Homo sapiens: one gene and its partners. The protein of the gene in region 4 purifies or fractionates together with the protein of the main gene of each other region. This does not show direct contact. Each region holds a gene or a part of one and is shown on either strand. Other genes may lie near its edges.

The links.
Region 1: the proteins of KIDINS220 (region 4) and ACBD3 purify together in Homo sapiens (pull-down; one large-scale study listed by IntAct). This does not show direct contact.
Region 2: the proteins of KIDINS220 (region 4) and PACC1 purify together in Homo sapiens (co-immunoprecipitation; one large-scale study listed by IntAct). This does not show direct contact.
Region 3: the proteins of KIDINS220 (region 4) and TMEM95 purify together in Homo sapiens (co-immunoprecipitation; one large-scale study listed by IntAct). This does not show direct contact.

The regions. Positions count from the first base shown.
Region 1 is NC_000001.11:226,180,242-226,183,741, forward strand, and holds part of ACBD3 (Golgi resident protein GCP60), read right to left. Parts: intron 1-3,500. UniProt on the Homo sapiens protein: Involved in the maintenance of Golgi structure by interacting with giantin, affecting protein transport between the endoplasmic reticulum and Golgi. Involved in hormone-induced steroid biosynthesis in testicular Leydig cells.
Region 2 is NC_000001.11:212,363,428-212,366,657, forward strand, and holds the end of PACC1 (proton-activated chloride channel), read right to left. Parts: intron 1,950-3,230; coding exon 1,788-1,949; 3' UTR 501-1,787; downstream 1-500. UniProt on the Homo sapiens protein: Chloride channel gated by pH that facilitates the entry of chloride ions into cells upon exposure to extracellular acidic pH. Involved in acidosis-induced cell death by mediating chloride influx and subsequent cell swelling.
Region 3 is NC_000017.11:7,353,910-7,357,719, reverse strand, and holds TMEM95 (sperm-egg fusion protein TMEM95 isoform 3 precursor), read right to left. Parts: upstream 2,565-3,810; 5' UTR 2,516-2,564; coding exon 2,347-2,515; intron 2,135-2,346; coding exon 2,078-2,134; intron 1,883-2,077; coding exon 1,802-1,882; intron 1,692-1,801; coding exon 1,671-1,691; intron 1,549-1,670; coding exon of another isoform or gene 1,525-1,548; coding exon 1,444-1,524; intron 1,329-1,443; coding exon 1,241-1,328; intron 1,122-1,240; coding exon 1,088-1,121; coding exon of another isoform or gene 999-1,087; 3' UTR 885-998; coding exon of another isoform or gene 619-884; 3' UTR 501-618; downstream 1-500. UniProt on the Homo sapiens protein: Sperm protein required for fusion of sperm with the egg membrane during fertilization.
Region 4 is NC_000002.12:8,782,114-8,785,613, forward strand, and holds part of KIDINS220 (kinase D-interacting substrate of 220 kDa), read right to left. Parts: intron 1-3,500. UniProt on the Homo sapiens protein: Promotes a prolonged MAP-kinase signaling by neurotrophins through activation of a Rap1-dependent mechanism. Provides a docking site for the CRKL-C3G complex, resulting in Rap1-dependent sustained ERK activation.

The DNA of each region.
Region 1 (3,500 bases), on a different chromosome or scaffold from region 4:
ATTGCCTAGCATATACTAACTGCTTAGTAAAAGTTTTAAGACTTCCCCTCCATTAACTCAAAACATCCATAATCAATTCTCAGAAGTACCTCCTTTTCAACAACATAAGCAGCCACAAAAATACCAATAGCCAGGCATTCTGCTAAGAGTTTATATATATAATTTCTTATAATTCCTAAAACAACCCTTTGAGTACAGGAAAGCACAAAAAGTTAACAAAATTAAGTGGCAGAGCAAGGAAAACACACCCTAAAGAGTGTTGACTCCAGAGCTTACCTTTCTAAATACTGATTCACAGTAGCTCTTGTATTAGTTAACTGATAAAACATCTGCTCCTGGGCATTGGCTACACTGTCCACTTTCTGAAAACTCATCAAGCTACACACTTAGTATTTGTGTACTTTAGTGCACTGCATGTGTGATAAAGGGAAGCCTCGGGAAAATGTTAAAATCACTTACATTAAAAACATATACACACTGGGCACAGTGGCTCACGCCTGTAATTCTAGCACTTTGGGAGGCCAAGGCAGGTGGATTACCTGAGGTCAGGAGCTCGAGACCAGCCTGACTAACATGGTGAAACCCTGTCTGTACTAAAAATACAAAAATTAGCTGGGCGTAGTGGCATGTGCCTGTAATCCCAGCTACTCGGGAGGCTGAGGCAGGAGAATTGCTTGAACCCAGGAGGCAGAGGCTGCAGTGAGCTGAGATCGCGCCATTGCACTCCAGCCTCGGTGACAGAATGAGACTCCATCTCAAAAAAAAAAAAAAAAACAATGACAACAACAACACATACACATTCCTGAATCCAGTCAAAGGAAAGTTTTGGTTCAGCTCAAATTTAACATGAACTTGGTGGCTATAATTGTTTTTCTGTCTTACATCTGTCTCTCTTAGGTCTATATATCCTCCTACAGTATTACATACTTATGTCTAAAGGTAAAGATAATAAAAGGGAAAAAGAACTCTAATAGATGTTCCATAGTAACAAACTTGAAATTATCTGAGGATAGACCACTGAAGTCCAGGAGGCACACTAATTATATATGTTTCCAATGAATAAATTACAGCTGTACAGTATTTTAAAACATTAAGGAAGCCATTTATAAATGCTCTTGTAGTTGCCTATGTTTAAAGAAGACAAGAGGAAATGGAACCATTTCAGTTGTCCATTTGTTTGCTATCATTAATATAATTCTCTCCCAACATATAATACTCTACTATCAGTAACACAATTGGGTATAATCAATAGCAATGCTAGTAGAACTATTCCATAAAGAAAATGAGTCCAAGACTTACCTTCCAAATAACTGAGGGGCCTGAGGCAGGATCCTTAACTCAGAAATGGGATTAATACCCTTACAGAAGGCCTCTTGGAGGATTAAACAAAATAATGTACATACAGTTTTTGGCATAGTACCTGAGATTTAGTAAACATCTACTCAATAACTATTGACAATTATTACTCTGAAATCTTAAATTAATGTAAACAATCTACCAGCTTAATGTAATACAGTAATAAAGTATTAGAGAAGGAAAAGTCCACCCCAAAGAACTCTAAAAACCAAAATACAATTCCCCAGGTCAACTCCATCCAAGAAGTATAAAGGTCATAATAAAATGAACCCACTGGATTCCTGTGGGTCCTTAACCCATGGAGATAAGAAAACCTAGCTTAACATTGTTAAAATAGAACTGGGCAACTCTGGCCGGGCGTGGTAGCTCATGCCTGTAATCCCAGCACTTTGAGAGGCCAAGGCGGGTGAATCGCTTGAGCTCAGGAGCTAAAGACCAGCTGGGCAACAAAGCAAGACCTCTGTCTCTACAAAAAATACAAAAATTAGCCGGGCATGGTGGCTCGTGCCTGTGGTCCCAGTCACACAGGAGGATGAGGTGGGAGGATGGCTTGAGCCTGGGAGGCATAGGGGGCAGTGAGCCAAGATCGCACTACTGCCCTCTAGCCTGCATAACAAAACCAGACTGTCTAAAAAAAAAAAAAGAATTGAGCAACTTTGCTCCTCCCTTTAAAAACCTCCAGTGGTTCCTCATCTTCTAATTTACTGACAAAAAGGCCGAACTATTAATACTTACATGGCCAGGCGCGGTGGTTCACGCCTGTAATCCCAGCGCTTTGGAAGGCCGAGGCGGGGAGATCATTTGGGGTCAGTCCAAGACCAGACTGGCCAACATGGTGAAACCCCATCTCTATTAATAATACAAAAATTAGCTGGGTGTGGTGGCACAAGCCTGTAAGCTCAGCTACTCACGAGGCTGAGGCAGGAGAATCACATGAACCCAGGAGGCAGAGGTTGCAGGGAGTGGAGATCATGCCACTGCATTCCAGCCTGGGTGACATAGCAAGACTCCGTCTCAGAAAAAAAAAATGACAATGGCATGCAAGTCCTTCCAAGAATTGAACTCAGTTACCTTCCCAGCTCTCTCCATCAAACTGCTTTCTATTTTCCATTTTGCAAACAGACATGCTTTGACTTCTCATGGCTTTCATGGCTCTTGGCCTTCCCCCCTCTGGAATGGCATCTGCTCCCTCAGTCCTCCACACTGTACTGCAGTTGTCACTGGGTCCTTAACTCCTCTTTTGGACTCTAAGCAAAAGATAACGTACTATTCATTTATAGTTGTAACCTAATATAAAACTATCCATACTGAAAAGTCAATAATGTCTGAAATTTAGATGGTAAAATGCTAACTTACATTTACCCACATCTTCATCTATTTTACTTTTACTGTCATAAAAAATTAAGAATAGTTGACGTAATTGATTCAGTCACTGGCCTATTACCACCCTGACAAGGATGGAATAAGAAATAGGGCTTGTCATTTCCAACCCAAGCTATTTGCAATGGAAAAATATATCCATGCTTTCAAGATTCGTATTTATTCCACAGTGGAAGAGAAAATGTAATGTTCTTTCCTTTATTTATTTATTTTTTTGAGATGGAGTCTTGCTCTGTTGCCCAGGCTGGAGGGCAGGGACGAAATCTTGGCTCACTGCAAGCTCCGCCTTGAGGGTTCAAGTGATTCTCCTGCCTCAGCCTCCCAAGTAGCTGGGACTATAGGCGCCTGCCACCACGCCCAGCTAATTTTTTTATTTTTTTATTTTTAGTACAGATGAGGTTTCACCGTGTTAGCCAGGGTGGTCTCGATCTCCTGACCTTGTGATCCACCCGCCTCGGCCTCCCAAAGTGCTGGGATTACAGGCAAAAGCTACCACACCCGGCCGAAAATGTAATGTTATTTCTAATTCTCGTGAGATACTGGTATAAAACCATAGAATAGCGATTAAAAGTCCCAGCAAGACTGACAAAACACCATGTGTTCCACCAGAAAAATCCACACATTAAAACAAAGGTGCCGGGCACGGTGGCTCACGCCTATAATCCCAACACTTTGGGAGGCCAAGGTGGGCAGATCACCTGAGGTCGGCAGTTCGAGACCAGCATGGAGAAACCCCGTCTCTACTAGAAATACAAAAGTACCTG
Region 2 (3,230 bases), on a different chromosome or scaffold from region 4:
CAGTGGCTCACGCCTGTAATCACAGCACTTTGGGGGGCTGAGGCGGGTGGATTGCTTGAGCTCAGGAGTTCCAGACCAGCTTGGCCAATATGGTGAAACCCTGTCTCTACTAAAAATACAAAAATTAGCCAGGCATGGTGGCACATGCTTGTAATCCCAGCTACTTGGGAGGCTGAGGCAGGAGAATCACCTGAACCCAGGAGGCAGAGGTTGCAATGAGCCGAGATAGCGCCACTGCACTCCAGCCTGGCAACAGAGTGAGTGAGACTCTGTCTCCAAAGAAAAAAAAGAAAAAAAAAAAAAGAGAAAGTGACATATTGTCAGACATGCTTTAAAAAAACACACCCCCCTTTTTCACTCCCCTTTTTATCAGTACTGTTAATGTAAGCTTTTATGCCTGGCTTTGCATTTGCCCTGCAATAAAATAAGATTTTATAAAGAGACCTAGGCTAAAACTTGAATTCTCATGCTTCTGTGGAGCAGAAAAGTGGCAGGGAATATTTCTTTATACAGTTCACTTTTAATCATTCATCCAAAAAACAGTTTCTTCCCATTTAAAATGCCTATTCATACATTTGAGTTATTCCCTTTGGATTATCGGAAGCCAGATTACAAAATTTAGGAAATGCTACCAAGTCCTCTTTGAAGCAACAGGCACATAAATAATTTAAAACTCTGGAAACAATTTTTAGAACCTTAATGTGAAAAATAGACTTTTTTTTAATGCATACTCATTTCTGTCAAAGGCTAGGCTAAAAGCTTTTTGAGGGTCACACTGCGTATGCCCCTTCCTCATATGATGGGTAGTTTTGTGGACACAGTAAAGAGTTAACCCAGCTTCCTCGGGGACACCAGGTCACTCTTTCTGGACACCTGCCATCAGTTGCCATGCCTAACAAACCCTTCCCTGGAAGCAGTTAGAACATACCTTGGGAGTCAGATCCATCTTGGGAGTCCAGACTCATACTACCTTTTTGTCCTTGGAAGTCACCAAATGAAAGTAATTGTGCCCGATGATTGAGCAGATATTCATATTGTCACACTCGTTCCTTTTGTATTAACTTTTATTTACCTGTTAATGAAATCATCAAAATACAATGAGTAGGCACCTTCTATGTACATCTGTCCTAGTGCTTTTGAGTGTTAATCTAAACTCATACATCAACAAACATTCTAGCCGGACAAGTAGGTGGCTACTCAGTCCATTAAGAAACTTAATTACTAGTTTCTAGTAGCCTTAAAGTCTCATTTAACATTTAACAAATCAAAGAGCATGTCAGAGGCTGGACATCAATGGCAGATGATGCCAAAGTCATAGGGTTTTGCCTTTGTGTACAGTGCATAGGCTCCAAAGCATGACCTGCACGTCTTGATACTCAGGAATTTTTGGAAAAAGAAAATCACACTCTTTTGTCCACTTTTAAAAAGTGAAAAGTAGAGCCTTCATTACCCTAGTAGAGCTTAACCTAATACAATACAATGAACCAAACAGGAAGAAAGGCATCTTCTACAAACCCTATTCAAAAGTCATTGGCCAGCTCTTTAAAAAGTTTATTAATAATTTAAATATTTAAATAACTTGTAGGTTTATCCATTAGTCTCTTCTATTAGGCTCTACACCGCCTCTTTTGGGACGGGGTTAGAAGTTCCAGTTTTACATGCTGTTCCTCCCAGCAAGGCCCCATTTCTTCAAGTGAGTACAGGATTGTTGATAGCTCCGTTTACAAAGTGGAAGTGATGACAGCTCCCATTGATGTGGACAGTTCTCTAAACAACGCGAGGTGACTTCAGCTTATGTGGCTCGTTGCCTGACCTCTTCTTTTAAGGTATCTCTTTCTAATTTTGATCATCCATTTTATACTCAGTTTGGCAAACTCTGCTGCTTTAAATAATGCCAAGAAGGCGCCACAGAGAAGAGCAATTGTGTTCCAAGGATTGGCAGTGACTATCTGTGAAGCAAACAGAAACAAACAGGATTACTGGTTTGCTTCAGTCTTGATTCTTTTTTTTTTTTTTTTTTTGAGATGGAGTTTCGCTCTTGTCACCCAGGCTTGTGTGCGTGGCGCAATCTCGGCTCAGTGCAAGCTCCGCTTCCTGGGTTCAAGCAATTCTCCTGCCTCAGCCTCCCGAGTAGCTGGGATTACAGGAACCTGCCACCACACCTGGCTAATTTTTTGTATGTTTAGTAGTGTTATTATCAAGAGCCCTTCCCAAATTATTGGGACTATAAGAAAAATACCTGGGTTCTGAAACTGTCATAACTCTATATACTTCATTCAGACTATACTTTTAATGTCCATAGCTCAGTTTGAGGAGAAAAATACTGACTCCTCCCTATAATAAAGTGATTCTGAAAGAAAGCTGTTTTTCAAAAAAGCTCTGCACAAATAAGATAGGCAATATTTAATTTTGTGGCCTAATCCAACAATAAGTGACCTTGCTTTGAGATGAATTTCCCTAAAACTATACCCAGTCCATAAGAAGGTGAGCTCCTCTTGTTCCCATCTCATAGTTACCATAGTTTCAAGTGTTTCCTCATTTCTAGTCCAATGGCTGTCTTTCCTCCCAAACTCAGAGGAGGATTCCTGCCTCCAGTCCTCTGCTCTTTTCCCCATCTACGATGCTTTCCTCCTGTCTAGGTTTACTCATCCTTCAAAGTCTCAGAGCTTTCCCTGACCACTAAGCTAAAACCCTTTCTGGACTTCAGCAGAGCTATTTATCCTATGAATGCCCTTCACAGTTCCTTATGGTCTGGAATCAATAATTTAAAACAATAGGATTGTTCTCTCACTAACTCTTGAAGGCAGAGTTGTAACTCTTTAAGGCAGAGTTCTTATCTTGGATTTCTGACTTCCACAACCTGGTAAGAATACTTTTTTTTTTTTTTTTTTTTTGAGATGGAGTCTCACTGTCGCCAGGCTGGAGTGCAGTGGCGCGATCTCAGTTCACTGCAACCTCCGCCTCCCGGGTTCAATCTATTCTCCTGCCTCAGCCTCCCGAGTAGCTGAGACTACAGGCACATGCCACCACGGCCGGCTAATTTTTTGTATTTTTAGTAGAGACGGGGTTTCACCATGTTGGCCAGGATGGTCTCGATCTTATGACCTCGTGATCCGCCTGCCTCAGCCTCCCAAATAAAATACTTCTAAGCTCAATTTAGCAGGGTGACCTTAGTATGCATTTCATTGTTCACATATGAAAATGGTGATACCACCACTTGACTGCTGTGA
Region 3 (3,810 bases), on a different chromosome or scaffold from region 4:
TTCCATGTCCCACGTTCCATTCCCAAACCAAAAACTCCTGATAGGCAGGGGACAAAACACCAGGGTTTCTCAACCATGCTCTGACATTTTGTTTCTTTCTTTTCTTTCTTTCTTCTTCTTCTTCCTCTTCTTCTTCTTCTTCTTCTTCTTCTTCTTCTTCTTCTTCTTCTCCTCCTCCTCCTTCTTCTTTTTCTTCTTTTCTTTTTTTTTTTCTCCTATCTCCCTTTCCTGGTAAACACTGACATTTTGGACGGGATAATTCTTTGCTGTGGGGACTTTCCTGTGTGTTGTGGGATGTTTAGCAACATCTCTAGCCTCTACCCACCAGAGGCCAGTAGCACGTCCCCCCAGTTAAAACAATCCAAAACGACTCCAGATGTTGCAAAATGTCTACTGGGGTGCAAAATCACCCCCATCTGAGAAGCACTGTGCTACTCTGAGAGTCTCCCATCCTTCCTCTGCCCTCCCCAGTTGCAGACAGAGGCTAGGCAGGGGCAGAGGCCATGAACAGCAAGTTTTACTTAGGCCTGGCAGGATGGAGGCCTCTGAGGGAGGCCAGGATTTCAAACTGTTAACACGATGGAGGGAGGGCATGCCCGCGAACCCACTGATGTGATCTCACTCTAGTGGGGTGAGTTTTCCAGAACATGCATTCCCGGATTCCCCATCAGTCATAGGAGGGCCTGGAATAGCTTCTGGGGCAGATGCCCCCGCTTTCCCGGAACAGGCAGAAGGGGGTGTGGGTGTGGTGGGAGTGGCGTAGGGGATTCTTTCCTTCTGTAGATATTTTCCTGGCATTGTTGACAGCCATGTGATTGGTTGAGGGCTGGAGGGGAGGAACTTTCCAGCTGTGGGTGCCTGGGTTCCCGGGAGGCCATCTGACACTGGGATTGTGGGGGATCTGGGTTTTTGGGGATTTTCTTGTTTTTCATTATCTCACCAACCAGAAGCAGGGATGTCTGGGTTTTAGGGTCTGGAGACTGTCTTTGGAGCTGGGACTAAGGGGCTGACTGGTTCCCCTCCAAGGGATGTGGAAGTTGTGAGTGCATACCCCTTAGAGCTGGAGGCTGGGAGGTTTTCAGCGTCTTCACAAGCCACTTTTTGCTTGGAGGTGGTGGGACCTGAGGGAAGACGAGGGTGGGAAGCCTACGGGAGGGGCCTGGGAGGGACAGAGGGAGGGAGGATGGGTGGTGGAAGGCACTGGGCGGGGTAGGATTCCTGTCTTTATCCCAAAACTCACTCCACCAGGAGGCTCAGAACACCCAGAAGCAGGAAAGCTCCGAAGATGGAGAGGAGCAGAATCTTGGCTTCCCAAAGATCCTGACTTCCTGCAGGGAACCCAGGAGGCAGTGAATGATTCTGGGACCCACACGCACCGACTTGGGAGCCCAAGGGCTCAGGGATCTGGGCAAGGTGGGGCGGGGCCAAGATGGGCGTGAGGACCTGGGAAGCAGCGCTTTCGGGGCCAGCAGGACACCTCCGTCCCCTTGCAGGTGGAGCAGTTGTACAGCGTGGTGCTGCCCCCTGCAGGAGACAGCAGAGGCAACGCTGGGGAGGGGAGGCCGGGCCTCCACCCTGCCTGGTACCCAGCTTCCTCCTGCAGCTGCCAGGCCCTCCTCTGACACCCTGCAGGCCCCAGGTCCTTGCTACCCCTTTCCTTTCCTACTCACGGCAGGCGGGGGGACAGAGAGCTGAAATGAAAGACAAGGAAGGGGTGGGGGTGTGAATGGATGAGCTGCTCACCACACATTCCTTTGGTTAAGACCCTAGGCTCCCCTTGAGGCCCATCCCGCATCGGTACCTTCCCTGGTGTACTCAGGGAGCTTGGTCTTTCGAAGCCAACTCCAATATGAAGGGAGTGAGGAGACAGCCTCTTTGATTTCTGGGGAGGCAGACAGCAGCTCCGTTTCCCTGGGCCTCGACGGGGCCAGTTCCCCCTCTCTTCACGCAGCCCCTCCCTGATCAGCCCTCCTGTCTCTACCCCTCCACCCTTCCCTGCCCACCCCAACCCCTGTCACCCGTCCCTCTCCTTGGTATCCTCCCAAGCCCCTAGGTCACTCTTTCCCCTTGACCTCACCCATGACCCTCAGGACTCTGTGAGTCTTCTCTGTGACTTTGTTCATGGACACCTCATCTGTGGAGATGGGCAAGGACCAGCGATTCCCTCATCAGCCCAGGTTCTGGGGTCTCTCCTGACTTTCCCAGATATGGAGCTCTCTCAGAGGGAAAGGCCAGCATGTCCAGAAAGGGCCACAGATGGAGGGCACAGCTGGAAGGTCACATGCCACCCTCTGGGGGTAGGGGGGTGAGTGCTTGCTGGGCCCATCCCTGGATGTCTGGTCCTACCTAAGGCAAAGGCCGAGAAGTCTGGGGAGGCCCCACATTCCTTCTGCCTGGCCTCCATCTGGCTGCAGAGCCGAGCCAGGCGGCCTGACAAGTCGTGGGCTGGGAGGCGACAGAAGACACAAGCCTGGGCGGCTGCCAGGAAAACCCCGCCTAGTGCCAGCCTCCACATGAGGACCACTGGGGGATGGGGCGGCGCTGCCCCAGCTGAGCCGAGGAATGCTCTGCAGCCCTGGCTCCAGCCCTTGCCTGGAGGTTCTAGAATGTTCCAGAACAATGAACAATGGCACTGCCCATCCTCAGCTGGGGTAAAGCTGGGGCTCAAGGAACTGGGGTCCAGAAGGCATCTCCAGCAGGCGATGGGCAGAGAAAGCAGGGCTTCTGTTGTGAGGGGACAGCACCCCCAACCTGGCCCTCAACAGCCTTCACAAGTTTGTGGTTCCAAAAGCAGTTTTATTTTTCTTCTTGTAAATCATGACCAGTGAGAAATAATGTGTGCCCCACCCCCCACCAGTGAAGAAGCTGTGCGTGAGTATCCCACCCGCTCTGGGACCCAGAAATCCCATCCCTTCCCATCTCCTCCCCCACTGTCCCAAACTCTTCGTCTCCTCTCTCTGCCCTGGGCGGCCTTGGGCCTTCCCCAGCTATCTCCTAGCAACAGGTCCATGGTTGCCTCAGCAACCAAGAGTTCCATACAGGCCTCAGAGGCCCAGCTAAGCCCAGTGACTTCTCTTACCTCTCACCAGGAAGATCCCAGTGACTCAAACCCCAACAGGCCCCTCCTGGCTACGTGGTGATGCATATACATGCGTGCACATAAACACACACACACACACACACACACACACCCTGTGATTAAACTACTAATTGTCAACCACCTCACAGGTATACCACAGACACACCCTGTGCCAGAAGAGTCGCTAGGCAACCCCAAACAGGCCTGGACATGCGGACATCACAGACACTGTAGTCAGCAACACAGATATGAACCAGGATGCCAGGGACCTATACATCAGTCAGCCACACGGGCTGATATGCACGCACACATGAAGAAAGGCCAGGACCCACAGATACTACCCTCTTCCCCCTGGCCAGCCCTGCCATCAGTATGGGATTCTTCCAGATGAGGGATGCTCCAGCCCCATTGCCATGGGGACTGTCCTAGCTCCCATACATCAACCTAGGGTGGGTTGTGGCCTTTCTGCCTCCCTCAGTAGATGGCTTGGAACATAGCAAAGAACTCCTCTTCCGATGTTCCAGAGTGTTCTGGCCTCTCATTGGTCAGGCCAGGCCAGGCCACCCAGCTTCAGGAGTAGAAGCCATGGTCCAAGAGACCGCATTGGGAAAATGCAAAGTCCTCCCTTTTCCCCAGACCTCAATATCCTTCCAGGGTTTTGCTAGGTCTAGTCTGGGTAAAGAGATGTTCCCCCCTTTTCCAAGCCCTTAAACACTGAGCTCCAAATCAAG
Region 4 (3,500 bases):
AAAAAATAAATAAATAAAAATAAAATAAAATTAATAATCTAAGCTTCCACCTCAGGAAACTAGAAAAAGAGCAAATTAAATCCAAAGTAATCAGAAGAAAAGAAATAATAAAAACTAAAACAGAAATAAAACAATGAAACCAAAAGCTAGTTAGTTCAAAAGATAAACACAATCAATAAGCCTTGGACTAACTAAGATGAAAGAAGAGGAAACACAAATTCAGAAAAACAACAAATAAAAGAGAGGCTACCACTTTAGACCTACCTCATGGACAAAAATAGGATAATAAAGGGATACTACAAACAACTCTATGCCCACAAATTTGATAACTTAGATAAACAGACCAGTTCTTTCAAAGACATAATTTGCCAAAATTCACAAGAACAGGCCTATATCTATTGAAGAAATTGCATCAATAATAATTTTTCAAAACAGAAAGCACCAGGCCCAGAGGGTTCACTAATGAAGTCTACCAAGCACTTACAGAAGAAATTATACCAACTCTACATAGGATCTTTCAGAAGACAGAAGCAAAGGGAATGCTTCCTAACTCATGCTATGAAGTCAGCATCACCCTAATACCCAAAGCAGACGAAGTCTTGACAAGAAAAGCAAACTACAAACCAATAAATATCTCATGAGCATAGATGCAAAAAACCTCAACAAAATATTAGAAAATCATATGCAAAATGTATAAAAAGAATTATACACCACAATCAAGTGAGATTTATGCCAGGTAGGTAGGGCCGGTTCCACATTCAAAAATCAATTAATGTAATCCATCACTTCAACAGACTAGGCTGGGCACAATGGCTCATGCCTGTAATCCCAGCACTTTGGGAGGCCGAGGAGGGAGGGTGGATCACCTGAGGTCAGGAGTTCAAGACCAGCCTGATCAACACGGTGAAACTCCGTCTCTACTAAAAATACAAAATTAGCTGGGCATGCTGTTGCATGCCTGTAATCTCACCTACTTGGGAGGCTGAGGCAGGAGAATCACTTGAACCCGTAAGGTGGAGGTTGTAGTGAGCTGAGATGGCACCACTGCACTCCAGCCTGGGCAACAAGAGTAAAACTCCGTCTCAAAAAAAAAAAAAGAAACAGGCTAAAGAAGAAAGATCACATGATTGCATAATTAGATAAAGCAAAAGCATTTGACAAAATCCAACACCATTTATGGTAGAAACTCTCAGTAAACTAGAAATAGAGAGGAACTTCTTCAACTTGATAAAGAGTATCTGTAGTTAACATCATACTTAATGGTGAGAACATGAAAACATCTACTAAGATCAGGAACGAGGCAAGATTGTCCCTTTTCTTACCACTCCTTTTCAACATAGTACTGCAAGTCCTAACTAATGCAATAAAACAAACAAACAAAAAGGAAATAAAAGGTATGAAGACTGGGAAGAAAGAAAGAAAACTGTCTTAGTTCACAGATGACTTGACTCTCTATGTAGAAAAACCGAAAGAACCACAATGAAAAAAAACTCCTGGGACTAACAAACAATTATAGCAAGATTTCAGATTAATACAAAAGTTGATCACTTTCCTATATATCAGCGTCAAACATGAAATTAAGAACACAATTACTATATATATTAACACTGCAAAAAACGAAATAGGTATAAATCTAACAAAATATGTATAAGATCTATATGAGAAAAACCACAAAACTCTTGAAAGAAATCAAGGAAGAACTAAATAAATGAGGAGATATTCCATGTTCATGGGTAGGAAGACTCAATACTTGACCTAAAGATTTAACGCAATCTCAATGAAAATCCCAGCAAGTTATTCAAGGTGAATCAAAAGTTCATATGAGGAGAAAAAGACCCAGAATAGCCAACACAGTATTGAAGGAGGAGAACAAAATAGGAGGACTGACACTACCCAACTTCAAGAAAATAGAGCTAGAGTAATCAAACAGTGTGGTATGCGCAAACGAACAGACAAAGAGAAAGAGCCCAGAAACAGACCTACACAAATATAGTCAATTGATCTTTGACAAGCGGCAAAGGCAATACAATGCAAGAAATAGCGTTTTTAACAAATGGTGCTGGAACAACTGGAAACAAAAAAAAAAAAAGAAAAGAAGCAAGGAAGCAAGAAAGCAAGCAAGAAAAGAATCTAGACACATTCACACTTCACAAAAATTAACTCAAAATAGCTCACAGACCTAAATGCAAAAGTATAAAACACCTAGAAAATGACAGAGGATAAAATCTAGGTGACCGTAGGTTTGGTGTTAACTTTTTAGATAGGACACTAAAAGCAAGATCCATGAAAGAAAGAATTAGTAAGCTAGACTTCATCAAAAATGTCTGCTCTGCAAAAGACACTGTCAAGAGAATGAAAAGCAACCAAAAGAATGGAGCAAAATATTTGCAAAAAGCTTATCTGATAAAGGACCATTAGCCAAAATACACAAAGAACTCTTAAAACTCAACAATAAGAAAATGAACAACCTGACTGAAAAATAAGCCAAGACCTTCACAGCCAATTCACCAAAGAAGACATACAGATAGCAAATAAGCACATGAAAATATGCTCCACAACATGTGTAATCAGGGAAATGCAAATTCAAACAATAAGATACCACTGCACACCTAACAGAATGGCCAAAATCCAGAACACCAATAATACCAAATGCTGGTGAGGATGTGATGTGGAGCAACAGGAGCCTCATTCATTTCTGGTGGGAATGCAAAATAGCCACCTCAGAACAGTCTGGTTGTTTCTAACAAAACGAAACATCATACAATCTAGCAATCACACTCCTTGGTATTTACCCAAAGGAGTTTTCAAATCCTTTATGTTCACACAAAAGCCTGTCCACAAAAGTTTATAGCAGCTTTATTCATACTTGCCAAAACTTGGAAGCAATAAAGATGTCCTTCAGTAGATAAATGTATAAATGAACTGTGATATATCCAGACAATGGCACATTAGCCATGCTAAAAAGAAATGAGCTAGCAGGTCATGAAAAGACATGAAGGGCACTTAAATGCATATGACTACGTGAAAGAAGCCAATCTGAAAAGACTACACATGTATGATTCAACTATATGACATTCTGGAAAGGGCAAAACTATGGCGATAGTAAAAAGAAATGGTAGCCAGGGGTTAGGGAGGAGGGTGGAGGGAGGGGTGAACAGGTGTGAAGAGGTGAAGCACAGAAGATTTTGAGGGCAATAAATCTACTCTGTATAAGACTATAATGGTGGATACATGTTATACATTTGTCCAAGCCCACAGAATGTACCACACCAAGAGTGAACCCTACTGTAAACTATGGATGCTGGGTGATTATGATGTGTCAGCCTAAGTTCATCAATTGTAACAAATGTACTGCTCTGGTGGGTAATCGTGCCAATTGGGGAGGCTGTGTATGTGTGGGGGAAGTGGGTATATGGGATATCTTTGCACTTCCCTCTAAATTTTACCGTGAACTTAAAACTACCTTAAATTATAGTCTTGAATGAACGAATGAATGAATG